7 linked regions of the Homo sapiens genome follow. The protein of the gene in region 1 interacts with the protein of each later gene in a pairwise test. Each region holds a gene or a part of one and is shown in the gene's direction. Other genes may lie near its edges.

Region 1 (3,500 bases):
AAGCTCCGCTTCCCGGGTTCATGCCATTCTCCTGCCTCAGCCTCCCGAGTAGCTGGGACCACAGGCGCCCGCCACCGCGCCCGGCTAATTTTTTGTATTTTTAGTAGAGACGGGGTTTCACCTTGTTAGCCAGGATGGTCTCGATCTCCTGACCTCATGATCTACCCGCCTCGGCCTCCCAAAGTGCTGGGATTACAGGCGTGAGCCACCGCGCCCGGCCTTGCATTCTTTACCAAAGTGATTCAATCAGTTGTCTTTTTCTCAGCGTCCATGATAATAGTTTCTTTCTCTCTCTCTCTCTCTCTTTATTATATATTTGTATATGTTTCATTACAGGGATTTATAGTAAAACAAGTGTCTTCCCAACCTGATAATTCATTTTGGATAGGCCTTTCTCGGCCCCAGACTGAGGTACCATGGCTCTGGGAGGATGGATCAACATTCTCTTCTAACTTGTAAGTGTTTGGAGAGACAATGCTTCATCCTTTTTCTCAGAGAGGTTTCCATCTCATCTATGAAAACCTCTGTCGAGCAGCTAAGAACCTGATTTGCTCACCATATATGAGAAAGAGAGGGAGAAAGATATAGAAGAAGAGAAAGAGTGAACTAGGACAAGAGGAGAAAGATGAGGAGGACCTTAGAGTGAAAAAGAGTGAGGCCATCTAGTAGCATCAACACAGATATTCTTCTGGTTTTCTTACTAGGGAGGCATCGACATGTTTGAAGTTGTCCAGGCAAGGAGCAGTCACTGTCAGTCAGTGTAACTCCCCGGTTAAGAGCATGGGTTTTGAAGCCAGGCCTCAGTTTGGGTTAATGATTACCCCACTCACTGATTGTGTGACACTGGGGATAAGTCACTTTTCCTCTCTGAGTCCCATTTTCCATAAACAAGAATAGAAAGGTGCTCTTGGCCAGGTGTGGTGGCTCACACCCGTAATCCCAGCACTTTGGGAGGCCCAGGTGGGCGGATCACTTGAGGTCAGGAGTTTGAGACCAGCCTGACCAACATGGTGAAACCCCACCTCCACTAAAAATTTAGCCGGGTGTGGTGGCATTGCCTGAAATCCCAGCTACTCAGGAGGCTGAGGCAGGAGAATTGCTTGGACCTGGGAGACAGAGGTTGCAGTGAGCTGAGATTGCACCATTGCACTCCAGCCTGGATGACAGAGTGAGACTCCAGTGAGACTCCAACTCAAAAAAAAAAAAAAAAAAAAAGAAAAAAAGAAAGAGTGCTTTCCTCTTAGAATTGTGAGATGGGTATAAAAGTAAAATAATTTAGCACAGTGTCTTGTACATAGTTAATGTGTGAGACTTATTATTAAGTTAAAAAGCAACCACATTTTCACATTTTGCATTTTAGAAAGATATTTTAAACGTATTTCACATTTGCCTGATGATACATTATTCCTTATTATGTGGTTTCTGTCACTGCTGTTGTCATTCATTTGCTTTTTAATATCTGCAGAATATGAAATATGTCTCTTTTAAGTTCTTATTATTAGTGTGTGTGTGCACACCTGTGTGTGTTTTTTCATCTGTCTCAGTAGGAGTACCGTTCAATTTGGTTTTTCAAAGAAAGTAACTTTTGACTTTGTTGACTCTGTCTTTTTATTATTTCTTTCATTAACTTTTATTCTAATCTGTATTACTTCCTTCCATCTAATTTATTTTTATTTTATTTTGTTTTATTTTTTGAGACAGAGTCTCACTCTGTCACCCAGGCTGGAGTGCAATGGCGATCTCGGCTCACTGCCAGCTCCGCCTCCCGGGTTCACGCCATTCTCCTGCCTCAGCCTCCTGAGTAGCTGGGACTACAGGCGCTCACCACCATGCCCGGCTAATTTTTTGTATATTTAGTAGAGACGGGGTTTCACCGTGTTAGCCAGGATGGTCTCGATCTCCTGACCTAATTTATTTGTTTTAAATTTGCTATTCCATCTCAAACTTCTCGTATTGGGTGCTTGCCTCATGAATTTAAGCCTTCCTTTATCTCAAGTATGTAGACTTAAGGCTATAATTTTAATGTATTTTCATTGTCTTTCAGTTCAAAATACTTTCTGATTTCCACTGTGAGCTGCTCTTTGACCCAGGAGTTATTTAGAAATGCATTTCTTAATTTACAAACATATGTGTTTCTGGTTATCTCTTTGTTTTAGGTTTCAGGCTTAGTTCCACTGTGATCAGAGAACATGCTCCACGTGCTTGTAGTTCTGTGATTTTTACGTGCTTCTTCCTCTTTCCATATGAAAAGAATTGTGTTGAAATCTTCCGCTGCGATTCTACTTACAGTTCTGTAAACATTTTATTCGATGTGTTGAAGCCGTGTTATCAGGCACATAAAGATTTAGAATTGTTACTTTTTTTCCCCTTTCTTTCCTCCTTTTTGGACGATTTAACACTTTTTCTTATTCTGTTTTTTTTTTCTGTTCATTTGGAATGTGCTCTTTCATGTCTTTTACATCTCTTTTACTAATCTTTTAGTAGTTGTTCTAGGAATTACACATGTATACTTCACTCATCAAAGACTAACATTAACTGACATTTTTATGTTCTTCCTGACCAATATAAAAATCATAGAGCATTCCTTTACTCTGTTGACTCTCTCCTCAATTTATATGCTATTATATTAATGTATTTATTTTTATTTATTTATTTTTATTTTATCGCCCAGGCTGGAGTGCAGTGGGGCAATCTTGGCCTACTGCAACCTCTGCCTCCTGGGTTCAAGCGATTCTCCCACCTCAGCCTCCTGAGTAGCTGGGACTACAGCTATGCGTCACCAGCTGGGTGTGGTGGTGGACGCCTGTAATCCCAGCTACTCAGAGGTTGAGGCACCAGAATTGCTTCAACCCGGGAGACGGAGGTTGCAGTGAGCCGAGATCGCACCACTGCACTCCAGCCTGGGTGACTGAGCCAGACTCAGTATTAAAAAAAAAAAAAAAGAAAAAGAAAAAAGAAAAAACTAGCCCTTGGGCCGGGCGCGGGGACTCACGCCTATAATCCCAGCACTTTGGGAGGCCGAGGCAGGCGGATCACTTGATCTCTGGAGTTCGATACCAGCCTGGCCAAAATGGTGAAACCCCATCTCTACAAAAAAAAAAAAAAGATATAAAAATTAGACAGACAAGGTGGCGCACAGATTTATGCAGTTAGTATTCATTTCAATTTGCCCACATATTTATGATTTTAGTTGTTTATTTCTTTCTTCCTTTCCAACTGTACATTACAGGTATTTTTTCTTAAGACTGATATTTCCAGTAAGTATAGAATTAGAGGTTTGTTGTTTTTCCTCTCAGCCACTCAAATATATTATTCCACTGTTTTCTATTTTTTACTGTTGTTTTTGAGAGGTCATCTGTTTGAAGGTAATATATGTTTTAAAACTAATGTGTTTACTCAGCACTGAAAAATTCTCAGCCATACTTGCTTCATATTTTGCTTTTCCCCATCTTTTTTCCCTTCTCCTGGAATCCCAGTTACATTCATTACAGACCCATTGA
Region 2 (3,500 bases), on another chromosome or scaffold:
TGGGTGATGTATGTCTGTACATGATATAGGTATGTATGTGTGGGGGTTGGCAGAGAAAATCATCTCTTAGTGATTATATACTGAACAGATTATATACGGAATAATACAGATGAATAGTAGTCATCTCTAGATTGTGGAATTACTGGTAATATTTGTTTGCTTTTGTTATACTTTCTGTTTTACTGAATGTTTGACATTTAGCATCTTTTAATGATGTATTCATGAAATCATTTTTAAAATAGAAGTCTCACAGTGTCCTTGAAGTTACAGAATCCTGTTAAGGTATTTGATTTCCTCTCCCTTAAAACTATCTTAGATAAAACCATCATAGTAAAGATAATGTATTTTATTTTTTGTTAGAATGAAGGAAAACTTGAAAGAGAGAAAAAAAACCAAAAAATGGAGAAAGACAGTGATGGCTGCCACCTGAAACATAAAATGGAGCATGAGCAAATAGAGACACAAGGCCAGGTTAATCACAATGGCCAAAAAAATAATGAATTTGGACTAGTAGAAAATTATAAGGAGGCATTAACACAGCAGTTAAAGAATGAAGATGAGACAGACCGGCCATCATTGGAATCAGGTAATAAATCTAGTTATTTAAAGTAATTATCTTATGTATATATAAATAAAACTTATACTTCATCTCATTTTTTATGTTTGTTTTTACAAACGAGTACTTCAATATTTTTCTGTCTTCAAATGCCATATTTACCATGATTTTCTCAAGGTCTTTTATTATTCAGTTTGTTCCTAACCTGTTTTTCCATGACTTAAAATGTGGTCCTTTGTAACTTATAAGGATTTCAGCAGAAAATTCCATTTTTATTTTCATAAATTTGGGATACAGCATAGCTCTCAAGAATCCTTGGAATAGCCCTCCCCCTCCTCCCCCTCCCCCCTCCCTCTTCCCCTCTCCCTCTTCCCCTCTCTCCCTCCCCCTCCCCCTCTCCCCCTCCCCCTCCTCCCCTCCCCCTCCCTCTCCTTCCCTCCCCCCTCCCCTTTCTTTCTTTCTTTCTTTCTACAGTCTCCCTCTCTTGCCGAGCCTGGACTGTACTGCCATGATCTCGGCTCACTGCAACCTCCCTGCCTCGGGCTCCTGTGATTCTCCTGCCTTAGCCTGCCGAGTGCCTGGGATTCCAGGCACGCGCCGCCACTCCTGACTGGTTTTTGTATTTTTGGTGGAGATGGGGTTTCGCCATGTTGACCGATCTGGTCTCCAGCTCCTGGCCTTGGGTGATCCGCCCACCTCGGCCTCCCGAGGTGCTGGGATTGCAGACGGAGTCTCGCTCACTCAACGCTCAATGTTGCTCAGGCTGGAGTGCAGTGGCGTGATCTCGGCTCGCTACAACCTCCACCTCCCAGCCGCCTGCCTTGGCCTCCCAAAGTGCTAAGATTACAGCCTCTGCCTGCCCGCCACCCCGTCTAGGAAGTGAGCAGCGTCTCTGCCTGGCCGCCCATCGTCTGGGATGTGAGGAGCCCCTCTGCCCGGCTGCCCCATCTGGGAAGTGTGGAGCGCCTCTGCCTGGCTGCCACCCTGTCTAGGAAGTGAGGAGTGTCTCTGCCTGGCCGCCCATCATCTGGGATGTGAGGAGCGCCCCTGGCCGGCCGCCCTGTCTGGGAAGTGAGGAGCGCCTCTGCCCGGCCGCCCCGTCTGGGAGGTGAGGAGCGCCTCTGCCCGGCCGCCACCCCGTCTGGGATGTGAGGAGCGTCTCTGCCCAGCCGCCACCCCATCTAGGAAGTGGGGAGTGCCTCTGCCCGGCTGCCCTGAATGGGAAGTGAGGAGCGCCTCTGCCCGGCCACCCCGTCTGGGAAGTGGGGAGCGCCTCTGCCTGGCTGCCCCGTCTGGGAAGTGAGGAGCGCTTCTGCCTGGCCGCTCCATCTGGGAGGTGAGGAGCGCCTCTGCCTGGCCGCCACCGCATCTGGGAGGTGAGGAGCGTCTCTGCCCGGCCGCCACCCTGTCTGGGAAGTGGGGAGCGCCTCTGCCCGGCTGCCCCATCGGGTAGGTGAGGAGTGCCTCTGCCCGGCTGCCCATCGTCTGGGAAGTGAGGAGCGCCTCTGCCCGGCCACCCATCGTCTGGGAGGTGAGGAGCGCCTCTGCCCGGCCGCCCCGAATGGGAAGTGAGGAGCGCCTCTGCCCGGCCGCGCCGTCTGGGAAGTGGGGAGCGCCTCTGCCCGGCCGCCCCGTCTGGGAAGTGAGGAGCGTCTCTGCCTGCCCGCCCCTCGTCGGGGAGGTGAGGAGCGCCTCTGCCCGCCGCCGCATCTGGGAGGTGTACCCAACAGCTCCGAAGAGACAGTGACCATCAAGAACGGGCCATGATGACGATGGCGGTTTTGTCGAAAAGAAAAGGGGGAAATGTGGGGAAAAGAAAGAGAGATCAGATGGTTACTGTGTCTGTGTAGAAAGAAGTAGACATAGAAGACTCCATTTTGTTCTGTACTAAGAAAAATTCTTCTGCCTTGGGATGCTGTTAATCTATAACCTTACCCCCAACCCTGTGCTCTCTGAAACGTGCTGTGTCAACTCAGGGTTAAATGGATTAAGGGCGGTGCAAGATGTGCTTTGTTAAACAGATGCTTGAAGGCAGCATGCTCATTAAGAGTCGTCACCACTCCCTAGTCTGAAGTACCCAGGGACACAAACACTGCGGAAGGCTGCAGGGAGCTCTGCCTAGGAAAACCAGAGACCTTTGTTCACGTGTTTATCTGCTGACCTTCTCTCCACTATTATCCTATGACCGTGCCACATCCCCCTCTCCGAGAAACACCCAAGAATGATCAATAAATACTAAAAAAAAAAAAAAAGAAAGAAAGAAAAAAAAGAGTTAAAATGCCAGAGCCCCCAACTGATCTGTAGATTTAAGGCAATTCCAAACAAATCCCAGCATGAGTCTTTGTAGATATAGGCAAGTTCATTATAAAATATATGTAAAAGTAAAGGACTGGAATACCCAAAACAATTTTGAAGAAAGATCAAGGTTAAAGACTCATACTACCCAATTTAAGACATACTATAAAGTAGTGGCCGGGCACAGTGGCTCATACCTGTAATCCCGACACTTTGGGAGGCTGAGGCGGGAGGATCACGAGGACAGGAGATCGAGACCACAGTAGAGACCCCGTCTCTACTAAAAATCCAAAAAATTAGCCAGGCGTGGTGGTGGGCGCCTGTGGTCCCAGCTACTCAGGAGGCTGAGGCAGGAAAATGGCGTGAACCTGGGAGGCAGAGCTTGCAGTGAGCCGAGATGGTGCCACTGCACTCCAGCCTGGGCAACAGAGCAAGACTCCATCACAAAAAAAAAAAAAAAAAGAAAAAAAAAAGACATACTATAAAATAAAACCACAGTGATCATAACAGTATAGTATTGACTAGAGGATAGACACAGAGATCAATAAAACACAATAGAGATTCTAGAAATAGATCCCCAAAATATGGTAATTTTAATGAGTTTCATTGAGGTATAATTGACTTACAACAAACTGCACATATTTATAGT
Region 3 (3,477 bases), on another chromosome or scaffold:
ACAAAGAATCCTTTCGGCTCTCATTCACTCCATGACTTTGGTTCATTTCATCATTTCAAGGGAGAAGTCAAAGCCAGGGACCAAACAGAAATGTAGAATCATCTAAGGACAGCTGTCAGACCATTTTCCCCACTGTCTTCACTGGCTGGCCAGAAAAATAGCTTCACCTAGCACAGTGTTGATGTTCAATAACTGTTGAATGAAGGTTGGAAGGGCTTTGCCCTGAGCACTGAGGAGAGAGAGCTGGTTGCGTGGGACTTGAAGTCTGTCTCAGTTTCTTTAGGTGGGACTGATGCCCTTGGCCTTCCTCCAGGGAAGGCATCCAGCATCCAGAGGTAAGGATTCTCCTGTGGACCTTGTGACCTCTGACTCCTCCCCCTTCTTCCCCCAGAGTTCAAGGAGGCCTTCTCCCTCTTTGACAAGGATGGAGATGGCACTATCACCACCAAGGAGTTGGGGACAGTGATGAGATCCCTGGGACAGAACCCCACTGAAGCAGAGCTGCAGGATATGATCAATGAGGTGGATGCAGATGGTGAGCCCCACAGAGCGCGTGGGCAGCCCTGCTCCTGGTCACCCCGAGTGACTGCAGGGAGCCTCTCTCAGGGTGATGGATGAGCCCGTGTCTCTCAGGGCCCAGGCCAAGAGCATTCTCCATCCTTTCCCCACCTTCCAGGGAACGGGACCATTGACTTCCCGGAGTTCCTGACCATGATGGCCAGAAAGATGAAGGACACAGACAGTGAGGAGGAGATCCGAGAGGCGTTCCGTGTCTTTGACAAGGTAAGCAGCCCTCTCCAGGGGCGGCTCTGAGACTGACGCCAGCCTTCAGGCAGACAGGCGGAACTGGAGCCACGGAGCTACCACTTCCAGGAGGTCCGGGTCCCGGTGCCAGCCTCATTGCCAACCTGCTCTGCCACCTCAGGCAGCCTCCCTCACTGTGCTCACTGCTGAGGGATGGTGATGACAGCCACCCCTCTCACTGCCTCTCTCCCCACCGGGAGAAGTGCCCAGTGAAAGGCTTTATCCCCAACCCCCAGGATGGGAATGGCTACATCAGCGCCGCAGAGCTGCGTCACGTAATGACGAACCTGGGGGAGAAGCTGACCGATGAGGAGGTGGATGAGATGATCAGGGAGGCTGACATCGATGGAGATGGCCAGGTCAATTATGAAGGTGAGTCAAGGCCAGGCTTGATCTCTGGAACAAGAAGAGAATCGCAGCTTCAGGAACAAGCCCCCAGATCCCTCTTGTTGGGGAGGGCCGCTCGCCACTTAGCCTGCCCGCCTGACCTCCTCTCTCTCTGCTTCACTCCACAGAGTTTGTACAGATGATGACTGCAAAGTGAAGGCCCCCCGGGCAGCTGGCGATGCCCGTTCTCTTGATCTCTCTCTTCTCGCGCGCGCACTCTCTCTTCAACACTCCCCTGCGTACCCCGGTTCTAGCAAACACCAATTGATTGACTGAGAATCTGATAAAGCAACAAAAGATTTGTCCCAAGCTGCATGATTGCTCTTTCTCCTTCTTCCCTGAGTCTCTCTCCATGCCCCTCATCTCTTCCTTTTGCCCTCGCCTCTTCCATCCATGTCTTCCAAGGCCTGATGCATTCATAAGTTGAAGCCCTCCCCAGATCCCCTTGGGGAGCCTCTGCCCTCCTCCAGCCCGGATGGCTCTCCTCCATTTTGGTTTGTTTCCTCTTGTTTGTCATCTTATTTTGGGTGCTGGGGTGGCTGCCAGCCCTGTCCCGGGACCTGCTGGGAGGGACAAGAGGCCCTCCCCCAGGCAGAAGAGCATGCCCTTTGCCGTTGCATGCAACCAGCCCTGTGATTCCACGTGCAGATCCCAGCAGCCTGTTGGGGCAGGGGTGCCAAGAGAGGCATTCCAGAAGGACTGAGGGGGCGTTGAGGAATTGTGGCGTTGACTGGATGTGGCCCAGGAGGGGGTCGAGGGGGCCAACTCACAGAAGGGGACTGACAGTGGGCAACACTCACATCCCACTGGCTGCTGTTCTGAAACCATCTGATTGGCTTTCTGAGGTTTGGCTGGGTGGGGACTGCTCATTTGGCCACTCTGCAAATTGGACTTGCCCGCGTTCCTGAAGCGCTCTCGAGCTGTTCTGTAAATACCTGGTGCTAACATCCCATGCCGCTCCCTCCTCACGATGCACCCACCGCCCTGAGGGCCCGTCCTAGGAATGGATGTGGGGATGGTCGCTTTGTAATGTGCTGGTTCTCTTTTTTTTTCTTTCCCCTCTATGGCCCTTAAGACTTTCATTTTGTTCAGAACCATGCTGGGCTAGCTAAAGGGTGGGGAGAGGGAAGATGGGCCCCACCACGCTCTCAAGAGAACGCACCTGCAATAAAACAGTCTTGTCGGCCAGCTGCCCAGGGGACGGCAGCTACAGCAGCCTCTGCGTCCTGGTCCGCCAGCACCTCCCGCTTCTCCGTGGTGACTTGGCGCCGCTTCCTCACATCTGTGCTCCGTGCCCTCTTCCCTGCCTCTTCCCTCGCCCACCTGCCTGCCCCCATACTCCCCCAGCGGAGAGCATGATCCGTGCCCTTGCTTCTGACTTTCGCCTCTGGGACAAGTAAGTCAATGTGGGCAGTTCAGTCGTCTGGGTTTTTTCCCCTTTTCTGTTCATTTCATCTGGCTCCCCCCACCACCTCCCCACCCCACCCCCCACCCCCTGCTTCCCCTCACTGCCCAGGTCGATCAAGTGGCTTTTCCTGGGACCTGCCCAGCTTTGAGAATCTCTTCTCATCCACCCTCTGGCACCCAGCCTCTGAGGGAAGGAGGGATGGGGCATAGTGGGAGACCCAGCCAAGAGCTGAGGGTAAGGGCAGGTAGGCGTGAGGCTGTGGACATTTTCGGAATGTTTTGGTTTTGTTTTTTTTAAACCGGGCAATATTGTGTTCAGTTCAAGCTGTGAAGAAAAATATATATCAATGTTTTCCAATAAAATACAGTGACTACCTGATTTGGCTCCTCTCCTCCTGTCTCAGTTTCTGGCCTGCCCCCCTCCAACACACATACACACCAACCCCAGCACTGACTCCTTTGGCCCAGAGGTGGAAGAGCCTCTCCTCAAAGCTGGCTCTGAAGCTGTGTCCAGTCAGTGCAGCCCAGTGGACGCCTCTGAACCACAGTTCTGATCCCAGCTAGATCGCAGGGTCATCAACGGCAGGGTCCTGTCCTAGAGATAGTCGCACAAATGGACTGAAAGGCGGGGACTGAGAAGGCTCCTCTGAGGCAGGCCCATCATGCCATGGGAGCACACAGAGAAGGGGTCAGCCCAGTCAGGTGGCAGGACTGAGCTGAGACCTACCTGAAAGATGGGCAGTCCCCTAGCCGGGTAGGGGAAGGACGGAAGGGCATTCCAGTTCGGGGGGACGACATGTATGGAAGCCCTGAGGCAAGAGAAGCCCAGACATCAAGGAACTGAAGGAAATCCAGCGAGACTGGGTGAGAGCCCCGAGC
Region 4 (3,500 bases), on another chromosome or scaffold:
TTCAGCCCCCTTTTTTCCTGCGTCTCATATGCTTGCTTCCACCTTCCACCTTTCTGCCACGGGATGACCCTCACCAGATGCCGGCGCCATGCTTTTGGACTTCCCAGCCTCCAGAACCATGAGCCAAATGAATCTGTTGTCTTTATAAATTACCCAGTCTGTGGTATTCTGTTATGGCAGCAGCAAATGGACTAAGACAAGCCTCTACTGACTACCCAGTTCCAAAGCCATTTCCACATTTTTAGGTATTTGTTACCTAAGCACCACACTTCCTGGTGCCAAAACCTGTATCCATTTCCTGGAACTGCCATTTCAACTGGGTGGCTTAAACAACAGAAATGGATTCTCTCCCCATTCTGAAAGCCAGAAGTCTGAAATCAAAGTGTCAGCAGGGCGTTACTCACCCTGAAAGTTCTACAGGAGGGTCCTTCCTGACCTCCCCAGGTTCCAGTGGCCCCAGGCATACCTTGGCCTCTGGCTGTGTCACTCCTGTCTCTTCCTCCACTGTACCATGGCTGTCTTCCCTCTGTGTGTCTTTGTCACTTCTGTTCTTATAAGGACATCAGTCATGTTGCATTAAGGACCCAACCTACTCCAGTATGACCCCATCTGAACTGCAAAGGCCCTATTTGCAAACATCACATTCTGAAGTACCACAGATTAGAACTTCAGCATACCTTGAGGGGACAGAATTCAACCCATAATAGAAGCCATCCTGCTCCAGTCCTCCCAACCAACCCCCATCAAAATCGGGAGACAGGCTGCACCCCCTGCCACACTACCCCCTGCCACACTGCCTTTGCTCAGGTTGGCCTCATCCATGCAGCTAGACCCCCAGCCTGACTTACTTCACCCCTGCTTTGTTCCTGGCTGTGCAGTGGCCCAGGCCAGCCCTCAGCATCCTTTCTTTTCTCCCACCAGTAACAGAAAATCCTTCTGTCTTGGGTCCCTGTGGCCTCACCAGTAGGACACAGAGTATGGAAGTGTCCCCAGCCTCGGCCTGAGCCACATCCCCCTACTTGTGTCCTGCTCTGCGGTCACTTGTTCTACCATGTGTGCTGGTCCTGACCTCCCCTTCAGATCTCAGGTGACCTCAGGGCCAGGCCCATGGATAACACCTGCTATCCCTGCCCAGCGCCACGGGCCAGGAAGTACAAGTGTGGCCTGCCCCAGCCGTGTCCTGAGGAGCACCTGGCCTTCCGCGTGGTCAGCGGGGCCGCCAACGTCATTGGGCCCAAGATCTGCCTCGAGGACAAGATGTGAGCTCCCTGGGGTGACTGGGGATCAGGGAGGGAGTGGGGGATCCAGGGCCGGGTCTGCAAGGGAGAGTGGAGCAGACGTGCCCATGTGGGATCTCCCCGTCCCCCCCACCCCCCCCCAACTAGGCTGATGAGCAGCGTCAAGGACAACGTGGGCCGCGGGCTGAACATCGCCCTGGTGAACGGTGAGGCCCCTGGCTGAGCGTGGCCTGCCGCCCTCCTTCCCTGCTCCCTCCCCAGGAGGCCTCTGGGTGTTTGCCCTCCCTTCCCCTCCCATTCAAGATCTCCCAGGGAGGCCTGGGAAGGAGTCTGTGCAAGCGCAAGGCTCCACAGAGGAGTGACCCAATGAACAAAAAAGCATGATGGCAATAAAGAACTAGGGAAGGTTCTGGGAGGTTGAGGGTGCTTCATGGAGAGCCCCCGGAGGGCCTCAAATGCCAGACAGAGGCACCACGGCTTGGGGTGGGATGCAGCTGCCTGAACAAATGGATGAATATTGGGGGACTGTTTGAAAGCTTCCAGAAGGGCTGCCCCCCACCCCCGGTGCTACCCGCCTGCCGTGCCCTGAGGCTGGCCTGGCTTACCCAGCAGGGCCCCTCCCTCCTGACACAGGGGTCAGCGGCGAGCTCATCGAGGCCCGGGCCTTTGACATGTGGGCCGGAGGTGAGTTGCAGCGCAGCGTCTTGCATTTTGACTGCAGCAAAATGACCTGGGCAGCTTCCCCTGAGACACTGCTCTCTCTGTCTGTACTTGGAGCTTCTCAGTCACCTCCGTGGGTTCAGAAAGGACAGGGGCATCGCCAGCTTGGTCTGGAGGCTGTGGGAGGTCACGGGGATGCCTCAGCTTCCTACACCAGCCTGTCCCTTGGCGGGGCATGTCCCAGGCCCAATCCCTACTTCTGTTTCCTTGTTTGGAGAACGGGCTTGTGGGAGGGTGCTCAGTGGTGCCTGATGACCCCTGTTCCGTGGCACCTGCCCCCCCAGATGTCAACGACCTGTTGAAGTTTATTCGGCCACTGCACGAAGGCACCCTGGTGTTCGTGGCATCCTACGACGACCCAGCCACCAAGTAGGTGCTTGGGGAGGCCAGCCTCAGCCTTGCCCTTCTGCAGCAACAGCTGACACCCCTTCCTCCCATGCTGCAGGATGAATGAAGAGACCAGAAAGCTCTTCAGTGAGCTGGGCAGCAGGAACGCCAAGGAGCTGGCCTTCCGGGACAGCTGGGTGTTTGTCGGGGCCAAGGGTGTGCAGAACAAGAGCCCCTTTGAGCAGGTATGGGGGGTGCCTGGCATCACCCCCACCGGGGCAGCCTGTCGCCCCTTCTGCCTGCATGCGACGAGCCTCCCCAGCTGCTCACGCCCCAGCAGGGGACCGTCCCCAGTCCAGCTATGAGGGGTGGGCCAGTGCAGCTGATGCCATGTTTCCCTGGGATGGGTGGAGGGGCCAAGTGCCCTGAGAGTACACCGTTGGCCAACACAGCACAGTTGACTGACAGCCTGGGTCCTGGTCCACTCCTGTCCCCTGTCCCTGAGGGCCAAAGTCATGACTTTCTGCTCCCCTCCCCACAGCACGTGAAGAACAGTAAGCACAGCAACAAGTACGAAGGCTGGCCCGAGGCGCTGGAGATGGAAGGCTGTATCCCGCGGAGAAGCACGGCCAGCTAGCACGGCCAGTGCCAGGACCGGGCCGAGGGAGGCCAGACCAAGGGAGGCACGCGCGCTGCCGGGCGGACAGAGGCTGAGGCTCACACCCCACACCCGGGCAGGAGCGCTCCCTGGCCCCAACACATCGGGGCTCCGAGGCAGTGACCAGAACGTGGTCTCAAGGTGGTGGGGGCTATGGGGGCTGCAGGGGGTAGCCCTGCCGCACTTTGTCACGGGAGCCCAGGGTACCCGCCTCCTTTTCGTAACACTGTTCCCCCCGGTCAGCCCATCTAGCCCTGTCCTCCATTCCTCACGCCATCTCCATCCCCATCTTGAGTCCTGGAACGGCCCTGGGTGCCTGCCCCTCACTGTGCATCTCTGGGAGCAGCCCGGCAGGTTGGGGCGTCTTCCAGAACCTCTCCCTTCTGGAGCCACTCTGCACTGCGGGCTAAACATGTTTCCAGTGTGATTCCTTCCAGTGAGCCAAACCCGGTGGCTGCTTCATGAGCCTGACTGCCTCTCGCCTGCTCTCAGCAGGAAGGGACCCCTGGAGCAGGCTGGCCCGGGGTGGTGAAGTAGCTGGAGCCCGATCACAGTCC
Region 5 (2,810 bases), on another chromosome or scaffold:
TCCAGGATATATTAAATGGGGGAAAAATAAACATGCAGAGACAGTCTATATAGTATGCTGCCATACTTCAGAAAAGGGAAAAATAACTTTTTGCTCATATATGCACTTTTTAAAAAATCACTCAATGTATTATCACACTGGCTCTTCTTCTTCCTTCTTCCTCCTTTCTTTCTTCTTCTTCTTCCTTCTTTCTTCTTTTCTTCTTTCTCCAAGAAAAGCACACTGGTCTTTAAGAAAAAAATAAAAGAAAAAAATCTGCTGGGCATGGTGGCTCACACCTGTAATCTCAGCACTTTGGGAGGCCAAGGCACTTTGGTAGGCTGTGGTGGGAGGACTGCCTGAGCTCAGGAGTTGGGGGCTGCCACTGCACTCCAGCCTGGCTGACAGAGACCCCATCTATAATTTAAAAAAAAAAAAAAATAGGCCAGGCGCGGTGGCTCACGCCTGTAATCCCAGCACTTTGGGAGGCCAAGGCAGGCGGATCATCAGGTCAGGAGATTGAGACCATCTCGGGTGAAACCCCATCTCTACTAAAAATACAAAAAAATAGCCAGGCATGGTGGCGGGCGCCCGTAGTCTCAGCTACTCAGGAGGCTGAGGCAGGAGAATTGCTTGAACCCGGGAGGCGGAGGTTGCAGTGAGCTGAGATCGCACCACTGCACTCCAGCCTGGGTGACAGAGAGAGACTCTGTCTCAAAAATAAAAAAATAATAATAATTTAAAAAATCACTCAGTGCACAAGAAACCATAATATTGATGCCTGGGGTGGGGGTGGGGGAGAATAGGGTGGGAATCGGTAAAGGGAGGAAGATATTTTACTATACTCATTGAATTTGCTCAAACATTTTAAAGTTTGTACAGCCAGGTGTGGTGGCCCGCATCTGTAATCCCAGCTACTCAGGAGTCTGAGGTGAGAGAATCACTCAAGGCCAGAAGTTTGAGCCCAGACTGGCAACATAGCAAGACCATGTCTCTAAAAAAATAAAAATAAATCGAAAAGTAAATAAAAGAGGGAAAGGAATAACATACTCAACTTCATAAAGATGTGGGGAAGTCAAATCAATCACTTATAGTAATTAGCGCTGTGCCTAATACATGTTAAGTGCATAAACTTTGGCTGTATTTGGAAGTACCAGCCATACCCACCAACTGCATCTGCCTCCCCTATCTACTCCCCCCACCGTCAGCCTATTGCCAATCAGCTGACGCGCTTCCCTCGAGAGTAGCCTGACCCTTTTCTTGCCCCCATAGGCTGATCTACTGGCTGACCTTTGCCGTGGGCCGCTCCTTCCGAGGCTTCGGCTACGGCCTGACGTTTCTGCCACTGCTGTCGATGCTGATGTGGAACCTCTACTACATGTTCGTGGTGGAGCCGGAGCGCATGCTCACTGCCACCGAGAGCCGCCTGGACTACCCGGACCACGCCCGCTCGGCCTCCGACTACAGGCCCCGCCCCTGGGGCTGAGCCTCTCCGCCCTCGCCCTCGGAGTAGGGGGTAGCGGCTTGGGTCTGACACATCTTTGAACCTTGTGGCCAGGCCTGGACTTCGCCCCCAGGCCTAGGACCGCGGTGGGTGGAACCCTGCTACTGCCCCAACAGGGACTCCAATCAATCGGAGTTCTCCCCTTGCCGGAGCTGCCCTTCACCTTTGGGGCCCGAGACAGTCATAAGGGATGGACTTAGTTTTCTTGCAGGGAAAAAGGTGGACAGCCGTGTTTCTTAAGGATGCTGAGGGCATGGGGCCAGGACCAGGGGAGAGGCACAGCTCCTTCCTGAGCAGCCTCTCACCACTGCCACAAGGCTCCCTAATGCTGGTCTCTGCTCCACTCCCCGGCTTCCCGTGAGGCAGGAGGCAGAGCCACAGCCAAGGCCCTGACCACTTCTGTGCCAGTTGTCTAAGCAGAGCGCCTCAGGGACGCTGGAAATGCCTTAAGGATAGAGGCTGGGCATCACATCAAATGGGACTGTGGTGTTTGGTGAAAACCTTCCTGAGGATCTGGATTCAGGACCCTCCATGACTGGCCTATTTACTGTTTACAGCTGGCCAGTGCAGAGCTGCTGCTCTTTTACCTTTTTAGGCCCCTGTAACTTCCCACCTTTAAACTGCCCAGAAGGCATGCCTCTCCCACAGGAAGAGGGGAGCAGACAGGGAAATCTGCCTACCAAGAGGGGTGTGTGTGTCTTTGTGCCCACACGTGGTGGCTGGGGAGTGCCTGGATGGTGCGGTGGTTGATGTTAACCTAGTGTGTGTGTGTGTGTGTGTGTGTGTGTGTGTGTGTGTGTGTGTGTAACAATAAATTACTACCAGTCTTTGCTGGCTCTTTTTTCCTGTTTGTCCCCCAGTCTCGAGTGTCCCTTCCCTGTTTAATTCAGATGACGATAGAAACCTCCCAGCTCTACCTGGTGGAGCAGGGCTGGCAGGTTCCTTGGTTCCACAGCAAGGAAATGGAGCCTCAAACAGAAACTTGCCTTCCAAGCCCATCTCTTAGCCCTTCCATTCCCTGGAACCAGCCCAAGACCAGCCCAACAACACTCACACATCAAGAGACTGGAGCCCTGTGAAAAAAAATAAATCTATTTTCTTGCCTTCCAGGGCAGCCAACCAGTCAGAATGCCTCTCATTTAGGCCTGCAAGTCCCATCCAAGGGAAATGTGTGGAGATGCAAGAAGGCAACACCAAGGGGACCTTATCAATAGCCCTGTCCCCTGCCCGCCTCCAAAGTCCCCCAACAAAGTATGAAGGAAGCCCCACCTGGGGGTCTCCAGGAAGTCGAGGCTGGCCTCTGAGGTTCCACAGAAAAGCAAGATGG
Region 6 (3,500 bases), 9.5 Mb from region 1:
TGGATGCCCGGTTATTCTGGCACCATTCGTTGAAAAGACTATCTCTGCTACATCGTATTGTCTTTGTTCCTTTATCAAAGATCAGTTGGGTCTATTTCTGGGTTCATTATTCTGTTCCATTGATCTATTTGTCTATTCTTTGTCCAAAACACATTGTCTTAATTATTGTAGCTTTACAGTAATTTTTTTTTTTTTTTGAGACAGAGTCTTGCTCTGTCACCCAGGCTACAGTGCAGTGGCGCAATCTCGGCTCACTGCAACCTCCACCTCCCAAGTTCAAGCGATTCTCCTGCCTCAGCCTCCCGAGTAGCTGGGATTACAGGGGCCCGCCACCACATCTGGCTAATTTTTGTATTTTTAGTAGAGATGGGGTTTCACCATCTTGGCCAGGCTGGTCTCGAACTCCTGAACTTGTGATCCACCAGACCCTACCTCCCAAAGTGCTGGGATTACAGGTGTGAGCCACCATGCCTGGCCGCTTTACAGTAATTCTTCAAGTCGGGTAGTGTCAGTCCTCTGACTTTGTTCTTTTCCTTCAGTATTTTGTCACCTATTTTGGGTTTATTTTATTTTATTTTATTTTTAGACAGAGTCTCACTCTGTCTCCAGGCTGGAGTGCAGTGACGTAATCTTGGCTCACTGCAACCTCCGCCTCCTGGGTTCAAGTGATTCTCCTGCCTCAGCTTCCCAAGTAGCTGGGACAACAGGTGCCCACCACCACGCCCAGCTAATTTTTTGTATTTTTAGTAGAGATGGGGTTTCACCATGTTGGCCAGGATGGTCTCGATCTCTTGACCTCATGATCCACCCACCTCAGCCTCCCGAAGTGCTGGGATTACAGGCGCGAGCCACTACGCCCTGCGGGTCTTTTGCTTCTCTATATAAACTAACTATACAATTAGTTTGTTGATATTCACAACTGATTTTGATTGGGATTGTTTGAATCTATAGTGAGTCCTCTTATCCATAAACATGGAATATCTATCTATCTATTTATTTTATATTTATTTATAAATTTATTTATTTATTTATTAAGATGGAGTCTTGCTCTGTCACCCAGGCTGGAGTACAGTGGCACAATCTCAGCTCACTGCAAACTCCGCTTCCCAGGTTGAAGCAATTCTCCTGCCTCAGCCTCCTGAGTAGCTGGGATTACAGGTGCGTGCCACCATGCCCAGCTAATTTTTGTATTTTTAGTAGTGACAGGGTTTCACCATGTTGACCAGGCTGGTCTCGAACTCCTGACCTCAAGTGATCCACCCGCCTCAGCCTCCCAAAGTGCTGAGATTACAGACGTGAGCCACCGCGCTTGTCCCCTTCATTTATTTAGTTCCTTGATTTATTTAATCAGTTTTGTAGTTTTCCTCATAATAGATATTGTACATATTTTGTTAGATTTATACATAGGCATTTCACTTTTTTAGGTGCTAATGTAAATGGTAGTGTTTTAAGTTTCAGATTCTACTTGTTCAGTGCTGTTTCATAGGAAAGTGATTGCATTTTATGTATTAACCTTGTATCCTGCAACCTTGCTATAATTGCTTATTAGTTCCAGCAGATTTTTGGTCAGTTCATTTAGATTTTCTACATAGACAATCATGTCATCTGCAAACAGAGATAGTTTTATTTCTTCACTCCCAATCTGTAGTCCCTTCATTTCCTTTTTCTGAAGGAACTACATTGCATTTACTAGGACTTCCTAGCAAAGACTGGGAAACTGCTAAGACTTGTTCATACTGAATGCAAATTCAATGTATGAAGCAGTGGTGACAGGAGACATCCTTGCCTGTTTCTAATCTTAGTGGGAGTGCTTCTACTTTCTTATCATTAAGTATGATGTTAGTTATAGGCTTTTTGTAGATATTCTTTATCAAATTGAGGAAATTATCTAGTGTACTGAGAGTTTTTATCATGAATGGGTGTTGAATTTTGCCAAATACTTTTTCTACATCTATTAATATGATCATGTGATTTTTCTTTTTTAGTCAGTTGGTGTGATTAATTACATTAATTGATTTTCTTTTGTTTTTATTTTATTCTCTTTTTTTTTTTTTGAAATGGAGTTTGGATCTTGTTGCCCAGGCTGGAGTGCAATAGTTGATCTCAGTTCACTGCAACCTCCACCTCCCAGGTTCAAGTGATTCCCCTGCCTCAGCCTCCCGAGCAGCTGAGATTACAGGCGGGTGTCACCACGCCCGACTAATTTTGTATTTTTAGTAGAGACAGGTTTCTCCATGTTGGTCAGGCTTGTCTTGAACTCCCAACCTCAGGTGATCCACCCACCTCGGCCTCCCAAAGTGCTAGGGTTAAAGGCGTGAGCCACTGCACCTAGCATTAATTGATTTTCAAATGTTGAACCAGTCCTGCATACCTGGACTAAACCCCAGTTGGTGTGGTGTATAATTCTTTTTTTTTTTTTTTTTTGAGACGGAGTTTCACTCTTGTTGCCTAAGCTGGAGTGCAATGGCATGATCTCGGCTCACCGCAACCTCTGCCTCCCGGGTTCAAGCAATTATCCTGCCTCAAGGTCCGGAGTAGCTGGGATTATACGCATGTGCCACCATGCCCGGCTAATTTTTATATTTTTAGTAGAGACGGGGTTTCTCCATGTTGGTCAGGCTGGTCTCGAACTCCTGACAGGTGATCTGCCCACCTCGGCCTCCCAAAGTGTGGGATTACAGGCGTGAGCCACCGTGCCTGACCCCATCCATTTACTTTTAATCCGTATGTGTCTTTTTTTGTTTGATACAAGGTCTTACTCTATCACCCATCACCCAGGCTGGAGTGCAGTGGCACCATCTTGGCTCACTGCAGCCTGAAATGCCTTGGCACAAGCAATCCTCCCACTTCAGCCTCCCAAGCAGCTAGGACTACAGGCACAAACCACCACACCCAGCTATTTTCTTATTCTTTGTAGAGATGGGGTCTCACTATATTGCCCAGGCTAGTCTTACTCCTGGCTTCAAGTGATTTTCCCATTTCAGCCTCCTAAAGTGCTGGGTTACAGGGGTGAGATACCACACTCAGCTGATCTATATGTATCTTTATGGTTAATGTGAGTTTCTTGTAGACAACATACAGTTGAGTCTTCTTTTTGTGTCCATCCTGACAATTTCTGCCTTTCAATTATGCACTTAGACCATTGACATTCAAAGTGATTACTGATATAGTTGGATCTACCACATTTGTTACTGTTTTTCTATTTGTTACCCTCATTCTTTGCTCCTATTTTTGTCTTCCACTTTTTTTTTTGCCTTTGGTGGTTTTAACTGAGCATTTTATATGTTCCTGTTTTATCTCCATTCATAGTGTATCAGTTGTACTTTTTTTTAACTTTTTTTAGTTATTGCCCTGGAGTTTGCAGTTTACAAGTACAACAAATCCAAGTGCACTTTCAAATAACACTATACCATTTCATGGATCGTGTGAGTACCTTATGATAACAAAACAATCCTAATTCCTCCATCCTGTTCCACGTATCATTGCTGGCATTCATTTTA
Region 7 (3,500 bases), on another chromosome or scaffold:
GCACTGGAAAAGGCATAATTTTAATGGAAAAAAATCACTGCCCCAACATTCTGCTTGATATATCAGTCCTGTGCACGGTTTTAAAAATGAGTCACTTTATAGAATATCATTACCTCTGACAGAAAATTCAAAATTCTGGCCAGGTGCGGTAGCTCATGCCTGTAATCCCAGCACTTTGGGAGGCCGAGGCAGGCGGATCACCTGAGGTCAGAAGTTTGAGGCCAGACTAGGCAACATGGTGAAACTTCGTTTCTACTAAAAATACAAAAATTATCCGGGCATGATGGTGCATGCCTTTAGTCTCAGCTACCTGGGAGGCTGAGGTGGGAGGATCACTTGAGCCTGGGAGGTGAAGGTTGCAGTGAATTGAGATTGTGCCACTGCACTCCAGCCTGGGTGACAGATTGAGACCCTGAAAGAAGAAAGAAAGAAAGAGAGAAAGAGAAAGAGAAAGGAAAGGAAAGCGAAAAGGAAAAGTCAAAATTCTGTATCTGGATTTCTAGAATTGAGAACCAGACATTGGACATTGATGTCCTCACTAAGAAAATGATATTCTAGTTGAAAAAAATAAAGCTTACATTGCTATCTCTTTTTACTTCCCCATTGCATATTTGTTGGCTTGTTTTATCTTTGCTGTAAGACTGTTGTCTTCTGGAGGATAGCTACTGCTTAGTCATGGTTGCATCTTCCACAACATCTAGAACAGAAAACATAAATGTTTCTGCAATAAAAGAATAAATGAGGCGTGGATATGTTCCCCCTACTTTCATGTGGAGAAGTTTACTGATCAAATGTAGCATGTACATAAATCACAGAGTATTTAAGAAACTGGCTGATCAAGCTGTTGGCTTTCTTGATGGCTGATTGACCAGTCCATCCCTGACTTCAAGGGCTTAAGTGCCCAGGCACTAGTTGCTAATGCTGCAGTTAGAGCTAAAGCACTGGCCTGGTCTCTGTCACTGTGACTCATCCTCTTCTAAGAATGGCTCTATTTTCTTCTACAATACTTAATTCAATGTTAAGCATTGTTGGCTTGCCGAATTGGGCAAAAACTGAATGTCTAAGATGAGCCAGTTGGTATTTCAGTTTAGAACTAGGAAAGCGCAGAGTTTGGGGAAACTTTCCAGAGGAGAGCCACAGCTCAAACCCAAGGTAATGCTAGAGATCCCTGAACATTTGTGCACTCTGATCTCTGGCTACCTTACAGAGTGAGGTAACTTACTTTCTTCTTCCTTATTCCTTAGGGCAAGAATATCACGGCATGGGCATGAGTAGCTTGAAACTGCTGAAGTATGTCCTGTTTTTCTTCAACTTGCTCTTTTGGGTAAGTGTATCTCTTCTGAGCACGGTTTAGCTCACCTTTACCCAGCTAAGCTCTCCTCATTCCTCTACTGAAGAGGCTGGTGTGGGGTAAAATGCATGCGTGTTTGGGTCATGTCCAGCACAACCATCCTAGAAACAAAAGAGTAATAATTTTTCCCCTCTTCCTGCCACAGAATAAACCTGCAAAATTGAAAGGTACCAGTGCAGTTATTAATGGAGGTGCTGTTTCTCTCTGAGGGCTTTAGTTTACTACTACTCGTAGCTAACATATATAGGTGAGAAACCTGAGACTGTGCTCTGGATATTGAGTGCCTCTGTTTTTCTTGTCTTTTTTTCTAGATTCCTTGAAACAATAAGTGATTGAAAGGAAAGTCACCCTTTCCAGGGAGGTTTCACTGTATAAAATTCAGCAATTGAATTTCAGATATAGGATGGGTTGGTACTTGTGTATATGAGAAGATTATTATAAGTTTGGCTTCTCTAGTTTTCTGCCTAGCAAGATGAGCTTCCTCAAGCAGGGCATCTTCTCTACATGGTCATGGTTTCTACAGAGAAAGCCATGTGTGAGCGACTGAAAAGATAAGGAAAAAGAAGTTAGACCTATATATGGTGAAGATACTGTGTGGCTCACAGAAGTGATCTTTCCTTGGTATCTGGAGATGGGTAGGAAGAGTTGTGAGTAGGTCTCCACATGAGAAAGCTGAGATTGCCTCTCCAATGTAAGCATGGAAAAGTTTGGTAAAGAAATTGTTCATGAGACTCTTGATTGAGCCAGTTAAAAATAAAGTGATTCTGATCTCAAGGAAGTGAGAATATGAGGAGATACCCAAGAACCACATTTTGCTTCAGGATGTTGTGGGATTCTTCCTTTCAGATCTGTGGCTGCTGCATTTTGGGCTTTGGGATCTACCTGCTGATCCACAACAACTTCGGAGTGCTCTTCCATAACCTCCCCTCCCTCACGCTGGGCAATGTGTTTGTCATCGTGGGCTCTATTATCATGGTAGTTGCCTTCCTGGGCTGCATGGGCTCTATCAAGGAAAACAAGTGTCTGCTTATGTCGGTGAGTCCTTACAGCAGATGTGGTGCCCCAAGTCGGGGAGATGGTGCCTAAATCCCAGGCAAGATGTTTCTTGGTAGATCACTTATAGGCACAGAAAGATCATAGGAAAATGAGATTGGTACCTCAGATCAGCCAAGTCTGCCCAGACCAATAGTATATTATGTATGACTAGGGTCCCACGGACAGGTGAAAGAGGGCATTGCTATCCCCCTTGTAGCCATTTTTATATTGCTAATAATGACTTTTGTCATTATTGTAATTCCCCTTTATAGCATTTTATTTTTTCTTTATGTCTGGATGAAATCAGGTGTCATCCATCTTCCAAAATCCTCCTCATGCTAGCTATTATTATGTACTTTCAGATTCTGACTGAGAGTCGCTAACTAATGGAAAATAATTTCTAGGCTCTTTCCTCCCCAAATGCCAAAGGATGCTTCCTTAACTCATGTCTGCACAAGATACTCCGTAGAGAGATCCAACTTAGGTGAGGGCTCTGGCTGCAGCCATTGAGGTCTAATGTGAGAGATGCTACAGCCTTTTGCATGTTCCCTATCAGGTACTATCCTGAGGAGTACCTTAAGGCTTAGGTTTTGCCTGTAAGCACAGTGCCTGTAGAGCACTGAGCTCTACATTTCTGTAGTGTTCCCAGAACAGAGCTTGGTGTAACAGTGCCACTCTACCAATAGGCGTGGGTTTCTAATCACATTGGTTCTTCCTTAAATCATTTGGTTAATCTTTTTTCCATTATGGTTCAACATTTTGGTGGTGGTTTTTTGTTTTGTTTTTTTCTTCTTGTTGTTGTTTTGGAGATGGAGTTTCACTCTTGTTGCCCAGGCTGGAGTGCAATGGCATGATCTCAGCTCACCACAGCCTCCGCCTCCCGGGTTCAAGCCATTCTCCTGCCTCAGCCTCCCGAGTAGCTGGGATTACAGTCATGCGCCACCATGTCCGGCTAATTCTGAATTTTTAGTAGAGACAGGGTTTCTCCATATTGGTCAAGCTGGTCTCTAACTCCCGACTTTAGGTGATCCACCTGCCTCGGCCTCCCAAAGTGTTGGGATTATAGGCGTAAGCCACTGCGCCCAGTCTGTATGGGTCAACTCTTAAACTGGAG

What was found.
Region 2: the proteins of CLEC7A (region 1) and ARL13B interact in binary tests that used the Homo sapiens proteins (3 or more experiments, as listed by UniProt).
Region 3: the proteins of CLEC7A (region 1) and CALM3 interact in a two-hybrid assay, tested with the Homo sapiens proteins (one large-scale study listed by BioGRID).
Region 4: the proteins of CLEC7A (region 1) and FAM3A interact in a two-hybrid assay, tested with the Homo sapiens proteins (one large-scale study listed by BioGRID).
Region 5: the proteins of CLEC7A (region 1) and TMEM79 interact in binary tests that used the Homo sapiens proteins (3 or more experiments, as listed by UniProt).
Region 6: the proteins of CLEC7A (region 1) and NINJ2 interact in binary tests that used the Homo sapiens proteins (3 or more experiments, as listed by UniProt).
Region 7: the proteins of CLEC7A (region 1) and CD53 interact in binary tests that used the Homo sapiens proteins (3 or more experiments, as listed by UniProt).

The regions. Positions count from the first base shown.
Region 1 is NC_000012.12:10,120,200-10,123,699, reverse strand, and holds part of CLEC7A (C-type lectin domain family 7 member A), read left to right. Parts: intron 1-336; coding exon 337-455; intron 456-3,500.
Region 2 is NC_000003.12:94,042,655-94,046,154, forward strand, and holds part of ARL13B (ADP-ribosylation factor-like protein 13B), read left to right. Parts: intron 1-360; coding exon 361-586; intron 587-3,500. UniProt on the Homo sapiens protein: Cilium-specific protein required to control the microtubule-based, ciliary axoneme structure. May act by maintaining the association between IFT subcomplexes A and B. Binds GTP but is not able to hydrolyze fit; the GTPase activity remains unclear.
Region 3 is NC_000019.10:46,607,806-46,611,282, forward strand, and holds the end of CALM3 (calmodulin-3), read left to right. Parts: intron 1-18; exon of another isoform or gene 19-391; coding exon 392-535; exon of another isoform or gene 536-676; coding exon 677-783; exon of another isoform or gene 784-1,040; coding exon 1,041-1,176; exon of another isoform or gene 1,177-1,200; intron 1,201-1,292; exon of another isoform or gene 1,293-1,319; coding exon 1,320-1,348; 3' UTR 1,349-2,977; downstream 2,978-3,477. UniProt on the Homo sapiens protein: Calmodulin acts as part of a calcium signal transduction pathway by mediating the control of a large number of enzymes, ion channels, aquaporins and other proteins through calcium-binding. Calcium-binding is required for the activation of calmodulin.
Region 4 is NC_000023.11:154,506,233-154,509,732, reverse strand, and holds part of FAM3A (protein FAM3A isoform 1 precursor), read left to right. Parts: intron 1-1,080; exon of another isoform or gene 1,081-1,107; coding exon of another isoform or gene 1,108-1,135; coding exon 1,136-1,259; intron 1,260-1,385; coding exon 1,386-1,444; intron 1,445-1,847; coding exon of another isoform or gene 1,848-1,871; coding exon 1,872-1,922; intron 1,923-2,242; coding exon 2,243-2,327; intron 2,328-2,403; coding exon 2,404-2,530; intron 2,531-2,826; coding exon 2,827-2,922; 3' UTR 2,923-3,500. UniProt on the Homo sapiens protein: May act as a defensin against invading fungal microorganisms.
Region 5 is NC_000001.11:156,290,134-156,292,943, forward strand, and holds the end of TMEM79 (transmembrane protein 79), read left to right. Parts: intron 1-1,251; coding exon 1,252-1,465; 3' UTR 1,466-2,310; downstream 2,311-2,810.
Region 6 is NC_000012.12:653,446-656,945, reverse strand, and holds part of NINJ2 (ninjurin-2), read left to right. Parts: intron 1-3,500. UniProt on the Homo sapiens protein: Its role in unclear. In contrast to NINJ1 paralog, does not mediate plasma membrane rupture (cytolysis) downstream of necroptotic and pyroptotic programmed cell death.
Region 7 is NC_000001.11:110,890,148-110,893,647, forward strand, and holds part of CD53 (leukocyte surface antigen CD53), read left to right. Parts: intron 1-1,244; 5' UTR 1,245-1,261; coding exon 1,262-1,324; intron 1,325-2,197; coding exon 2,198-2,386; intron 2,387-3,500. UniProt on the Homo sapiens protein: Structural component of specialized membrane microdomains known as tetraspanin-enriched microdomains (TERMs), which act as platforms for receptor clustering and signaling.